Homo sapiens: one gene and its partner. The protein of the gene in region 1 purifies or fractionates together with the protein of each later gene. This does not show direct contact. Each region holds a gene or a part of one and is shown in the gene's direction. Other genes may lie near its edges. The genes, in order: CD8B and GALNT12.

The links.
Region 2: the proteins of CD8B (region 1) and GALNT12 purify together in Homo sapiens (affinity purification with mass spectrometry; one large-scale study listed by BioGRID and IntAct). This does not show direct contact.

What each region holds. Positions count from the first base shown.
Region 1 is NC_000002.12:86,841,338-86,845,160, reverse strand, and holds part of CD8B (T-cell surface glycoprotein CD8 beta chain isoform 5 precursor), read left to right. Parts: intron 1-202; coding exon 203-239; intron 240-2,783; coding exon of another isoform or gene 2,784-2,841; coding exon 2,842-2,854; coding exon of another isoform or gene 2,855-2,904; 3' UTR 2,905-3,823. UniProt on the Homo sapiens protein: Integral membrane glycoprotein that plays an essential role in the immune response and serves multiple functions in responses against both external and internal offenses. In T-cells, functions primarily as a coreceptor for MHC class I molecule:peptide complex.
Region 2 is NC_000009.12:98,845,451-98,848,229, forward strand, and holds part of GALNT12 (polypeptide N-acetylgalactosaminyltransferase 12), read left to right. Parts: intron 1-526; coding exon 527-673; intron 674-2,779. UniProt on the Homo sapiens protein: Catalyzes the initial reaction in O-linked oligosaccharide biosynthesis, the transfer of an N-acetyl-D-galactosamine residue to a serine or threonine residue on the protein receptor.

The sequences.
Region 1 (3,823 bases):
GAGATCTTAAAAGTAGTATCCAACTCAGGTTTTCAGTGAGCATTAAGGGGATTAAAATGTGTAAAGTGTTTGGGCCAGGGTCTGGGACCAGGGAGGTGGGCTGAGGTGTCAGCTGCCCCTGTGACAATCCTCCTTGGCCTCTGGGGCTCAGCGCAGTGACCCACAGCCCACACTGACTGGCGCCCTTGCTTTCCTCTTCCAGGCCGGCGGAGGAGAGCCCGGCTTCGTTTCATGAAACAGTAAGTGTATAACCTGGGTGTGGCCTTGGGTTCCTCAGCCCCTGCTGCAGCTTGCAGCCTCTAACTGCAGCGAGGAGCCAAAGTCAGACCTCATCTTCCAAAGATCATAGACTCGGCCGGGCATAGTAGTGCACACCTGTAGTCACAGCTACTCGGGAGGCTGAAGCAGGAGGATCACTTGAGCCCAGGAGTTCAAGGCTGCAGTGAGCTATGATGGTACCACTGCACTCCAGCCTGGGCAACAGAGTGAGACTCCATCTAAAAAAAAAAATTACAGACTGTATAAATAGATGGGGTGATAGAGTTCAGGAACCTAAGAGATAACCTAAACAAACAAAAACCTGACCAGTAAGTTAAATGTATTTCAAGAACATTCTTAGCTCTCCTGAGGAGAGCAATCAGGCTTTGCATGCACAGAATACCGCAGAGTATCCCAAACTCATCCCATCCGTTATTTCATCCCACCTATTATTTCATCCCCTTGGTACTGTGTGAGATAAGGGGTTATCACCCTCATTTGACAGATCAGTGGAGAGACTACTGGAATCGGATTTGAAGACCAGCCTCTTCTACCAGCCATTGCTTTCCTTCCCTAGGAGCTGCCTTTGTCCCACCTGCTGCCCTCGACCCCATCTGGGTCCCAGGAGTTGACAGAGTCACATAGCACTCTTGGGGCCCACTAAGCTGAGAAAGAGCCTGTACTTACCCTGGGCTGGGCTGGGACCTTTAGTGGTGGCCATTTAGTCACCACCTTTGCAAGTTGCTTTGCCCTGGTAGGGCAGTGACATTAGGTCCTGGGTCTTTCATGAGGCTGTTGGAAGCCATCCTGGGCCAGGGCAGCATTCCTGCATTTGATTTTTGTTCCTCACAACAGAGACTGTTTCACATCTGCCTATCCAGTTAATTACATTTGATCCTTAGAACAACCCCCTCTATACAGAAATGTTTGGGGGAGCAAAAGTACACAACTCTAAATTGAAGAGGGCAACAGGTTCTCCTGCTCAAAAGCTCCAGCTTTAGGTGGAGACAGGGCTGGGTTTGAATCCCGTCTGCCAATCACCATGTGACAGCCAGCAAGTCACTTCACGTCTCCAAGTCTCGGATTTCTCGTCTGTTAAATGAGCTAACAGTGCCAATCTCACAGTCAGTGTGAGGACTCACTGGGGTATTATCCTTAAAGCATGTGGCCCCAGGACCCCGGAGTCAGAGCACAAGCTCAAGTCACTTCAGTAAATTCCACTCTGCAAGTGCAGCAATGGACAAACAAAATGTATTTTTGAATACTCTAAAATTGTAAATAGCCATATAAATTCATATTACTATATGCTCTGCATTGTTGTACACATTATATTTATATCGAGAGTGGCTTAAACATGCCTGCTGGATTTTATGGGCAATTTTCAATGATATTTTAATTGTGTACAATTTTCACCTTGTGTGTTGGATTTAGAAGCTGCCCCCTACCCAAGAGATAATAACTTGAGTGTAGCTGTCTCAGGCCAGACCTCTAGAAAGTTCCATTCAAGGCCGGGTGCAGTGGCTCAAGCCTGTAATCCCAGCACTTTGGGAGGCCCAAGGCAGGTAGATCGCCTGAGGTCAGGAGTTTGAGACCAGCCTGGCCAACATGGTGAAACCCCATCTCTACTAAAAATACAAAAAATTAACTGGACGTGGTGGCAGGCGCCTATGTAATCCCAGCTACTCGAGAGGCTGAGGTAAGAGAATCACTTGAACCCCGGAGGCAGAGGTTGCAATGAGCAGAGATCACACCATTCCGCTGCAGCCTGGGCAACAAGAGTGAAACTCTGTCTCAAAAAAAAAAAGAAAGTTCCTTTCAAAATGTCTCCCATGATGACCTTTCATGGAAAGTAAGTCCCTCTCTGGTACTAACTGTGGTCTGGGTCTGTCCCCACCCCTTCATTTTAACTTGCTCCCCAGTGATCTGATGCCAGTTTTGGGGAGGCTGGATGCAGGACCTCATGCTTTTGCAAGCCCAGGATCAGCTTGAGGCAGGGAAGGGGCTCTGGGTGGTCGTGGGGGGACCCTGAGACCTCCTCACTCTCTTCATTTTGAACAGACGTACTCTCTTCTATTGTCTGGGTTTACACTTACCTGTAACATGTCATTTGAACAAAAGGGTTTGTGGCTTCAAAAAAGCTTGAAAACCACCTCTGGTTTTGCTCTCATGATCCAGGCATGGAGGAAATAGCCTGTGGTGCTCACAGATCTGAGTTGCGATTTGAGGTAGTTGTTCCCCAGCCTCTAACTGTCCTTAGAAAATCATCCCATCTGCAGGCTAATTTCTTCTGGCCCCTTGATATAAATTTGTGATTCTCTTAGATTATCTTAGAGGTACTACAGGAAGTAACCCAATTCAAAGCTACCGTTCTTTGAGCTGCAGTTTTGTTTTGTTTTGTTTTTTAGCCTTAACAATCTTTTTAATGACTAAGATGGGCCCTAGAAACATACTAACAAAAAACTCTCGGCCCCAGGCTACTTGGAGTAGAACTCTGCATTCTCATTTGCCATTTGTCTCTGTTACAGGAAATTCAATATCGTTTGCCTGAAAATAAGTGGTTTCACAACTTGCTGTTGTTTTCAGATTTTACAAATGAGCAGAGAATACGGTTTTGGTGTCCTGCTACAAAAAGACATCGGTCAGTAACGAGCACGATGTGGAAAAATGAGAGAAGGGACACATTCAACCCTGGAGAGTTCAATGGCTGCTGAAGCTGCCTGCTTTTCACTGCTGCAAGGCCTTTCTGTGTGTGATGTGCATGGGAGCAACTTGTTCGTGGGTCATCGGGAATACTAGGGAGAAGGTTTCATTGCCCCCAGGGCACTTCACAGAGTGTGCTGGAGGACTGAGTAAGAAATGCTGCCCATGCCACCGCTTCCGGCTCCTGTGCTTTCCCTGAACTGGGACCTTTAGTGGTGGCCATTTAGCCACCATCTTTGCAGGTTGCTTTGCCCTGGTAGGGCAGTAACATTGGGTCCTGGGTCTTTCATGGGGTGATGCTGGGCTGGCTCCCTCTTGGTCTTCCCAGGCTGGGGCTGACCTTCCTCGCAGAGAGGCCAGGTGCAGGTTGGGAATGAGGCTTGCTGAGAGGGGCTGTCCAGTTCCCAGAAGGCATATCAGTCTCTGAGGGCTTCCTTTGGGGCCGGGAACTTGCGGGTTTGAGGATAGGAGTTCACTTCATCTTCTCAGCTCCCATTTCTACTCTTAAGTTTCTCAGCTCCCATTTCTACTCTCCCATGGCTTAATGCTTCTTTCATTTTCTGTTTGTTTTATACAAATGTCTTAGTTGTACAAATAAAGTCCCAGGTTAAAGATAACAAACGGCTCCTGTGACATAAACGTGCGAAAGCCCATCTACAGCAAAGACATCAGTGCTCCGTGGAACAGAAACCAGAAGGAGAAAATTTGTACATCCTCCTTTTGCACCTGAGATCCTCATTTGCCCGACGTTGTAGGTGTGGAGAGTCCTAGAGAGGCTAGGAAGCGCCCAGGGCACCCAGAGCCAGGCTGCAGGTGCCTCAGGCCCCTCTCCCAGCCCACTCCCAAGCTGAACTAGCACGTGTTC
Region 2 (2,779 bases), on another chromosome or scaffold:
TTCCTAGTACACTCAGGTAGGAAAACCATTGTCCGGGAAGAACCAAGTCTTCCCGTTAGCGGTCACATTGTCTGCTTGTGCACAGCACTTTACATCTTCTAGGAACTGTCATATTGGGGGTTTGGGAGGAGAGACTGAGGAAAAGGAGAGGAAGTAGCTAGTCAAGGTCACAGAGAGCCCCCAAGAGCTAGTGCTGCGATGGGTCCATTTCCCTTCCTCCCATCCCACACCAACACAGCATTCAGCACTGCAGGCAGGAGGTGACATGCACCAGCCCTGTCTCCCTGTCTAGCAAGCTGGGCAGGCATGGGAAGGGCCATTTCCTCCACGCTCATGAAGCACTGCAGTAGCGGTTCACTGAGGGCTGTGGGATGCGGAGGAACCCATCACACAGGCTCGTGTTGGTGGTGACGCAGGTGCATGACCCCACCCATGCTCTCGTGATCCCAGGTTCTTGTCCAGCGATCTTTCCTCTTCCCACATCAGTGGAAAATGTTGTGTTACATGTTGGCTGCCCCATTTTTAGTTTTTCGAGTACACGTCCCAGAAAGAAATACGCTATAACACCCACCAGCCTGAGGGCTGCATTGCTGTGGAAGCAGGAATGGATACCCTTATCATGCATCTCTGCGAAGAAACTGCCCCAGAGAATCAGAAGTTCATCTTGCAGGAGGTAGGTGAACTCTCTCCTTCCTTCCTGCTGACAGTCCCTGGGCTATAAGGGAGAGTGTGAGAGTCAGACGTTCTCTCTGGCATAGTCCTGGTGAGGATCAGGGATGTGGCCATGCATGGACAGGAGCTCTGGAAGACCTGGAACCTCAGTCCCAGTGAGCCTGGGGGGCGGTGATGGCAGGAGATTGGAGTCCCCTGGCACACGGTGTCATTAGCACTGCCTTCCTTCCTCATTGTCCAGTCCCTTTTAGTCTTTTCCATTTCCCTTGCACCCCCATGAGCTGCAGGCACCGACATGGAAACAGCTCTTACAAATGCATTCAGAGATGAAAGGGCTTTAAATGAGTAAGCCAAATAGCCCAAGTGTAAGGATGTTAGCCAAAGTGTTAGATCCAGATATAAGCCACCCCACCTCTCTAAGCCTTGTTTTTCCCAGCTTTAAAATAGGTACAATAGGCCAGGCACAGTGGCTGACGCCTGTAATCCCAGCACTTTGGGAGGCCAAGGCAGGTGGATCATCCGAAGCCAGGAGTTCGAGACCAGCCTGGCCAATATGGCAAAACCCCATCTCTACTTAAAAAAAAAAATAGCCAGGTGTGGTGGCATGCCCCTGTAGTCCCATCTACTTGGGAGGCTGAAGCAGGAGAATCACTTGAACCGGAAGGCGGAGGTTGCAGTCAGCCGAAATCATGCCACTGCACTGTAGCCTGGGAGACAGAGCGAGACTCCGTCTCAAAAAAAAAAAAAAAAAAAGGTGCAATAATAGCAGACTTACTTTACTGAGGATTAGATGCATAGCCAGAAATATTCTTTGGAAACTATAAAGCTCGATAGAGATTAGTTGTTGCTTGTGGTATTATAACCAAGAAAACACCTCTGATAGAGTAGTCTCCCTGGATAGTCACAGTTGATTTGAAACTGAGGGTTACCTCAGACCTGAGGGTGCTGGCCCCACCACACTTGCAGTCAGCTTGCATCAGGACTTGTAAATCGATCATATCCTTTGACTCACTAAAAAGCATGTGAGGGAATAAATCCAAAGAAAATCATTTGAAAGAAAAAAATTCATTGTTTTTTATCTCCCTGGGCAGCTTTCACTCCCAATATACTGCTTATAAATGGGTTTATTCTAAAGATGATTAAAAGCTGGAATATGTTTTCCTGCAGAAAAATGTTGTCACTAGCAATGACATTTGCAGGCTGCCCAGAAAAGCCACACACCATGGTGTTACCTATTGAATACAGGAAAATAAGAAGGAAAAATACTTCTGCACACCCCAGACGTCTCTGATCTTCTTGAATGTCCTCCTCTTCCCATCTTTCTCCCAACCAGAAGCCATTGTAAGCCCTCAAGGAATGGTAGTGGACACTAGAAACAATAAAATCAGTTTGACATATCAAAAATTTTATCTTAAATTTCAGTGACCATTTAAGGAAAAGGAAGTTTGTTCAGGAGGCTGGGAAGAAGGATACTGAATTGGATTTTTTACCTTTCTTCAGGACGCTTAATACTTTGATTCATATGTGAAAAGGATACAGCTTGATTTATTATATTTCATCAGTCATGCCCTAAATATATATATATAAAACAAATATATATTGAACAGAAACATATGTGAATTCTGAAGGAAATGTCCCCACTTATATTCACTAGACCATAATAGAAAGCTTAGTTCTTAGGGCTGGATCTTTTTTTTTTTTTTTTTTTTTTGAGACGGAGCCTTGCTCCACCAAGGCTGGAGTGCAGGGGTGCAATCTCAGCTCACTGCAACCTCTGCCTCCTGGGTTCAAGCGATTCTCCTGTCTCAGTCTCCTGAGTAGCTGGGACTACAGGCGCCCGCCACCACGCCCAGCTAATTTTTTGTATTTTTAGTAGAGATGGAGTTTTGCCATGTTGGCCAGGCTGGTCTTGAGCTCTTTGGCCTCAAGTGATCCACCTGCCTCAGCCTCTCAAAGTGCTGCGATTACAGGCGTGAGCTACTGTGCCCAGCCTTGTATTTTCTTATGTAGGCCTAAAAACCTCTGAAATGTCATTTCTTGGATTCTACAAAACATGAGTTTGGATTTTTTTGAATGAAAAAAGTTCCATTTAGTGAACAGCACATCA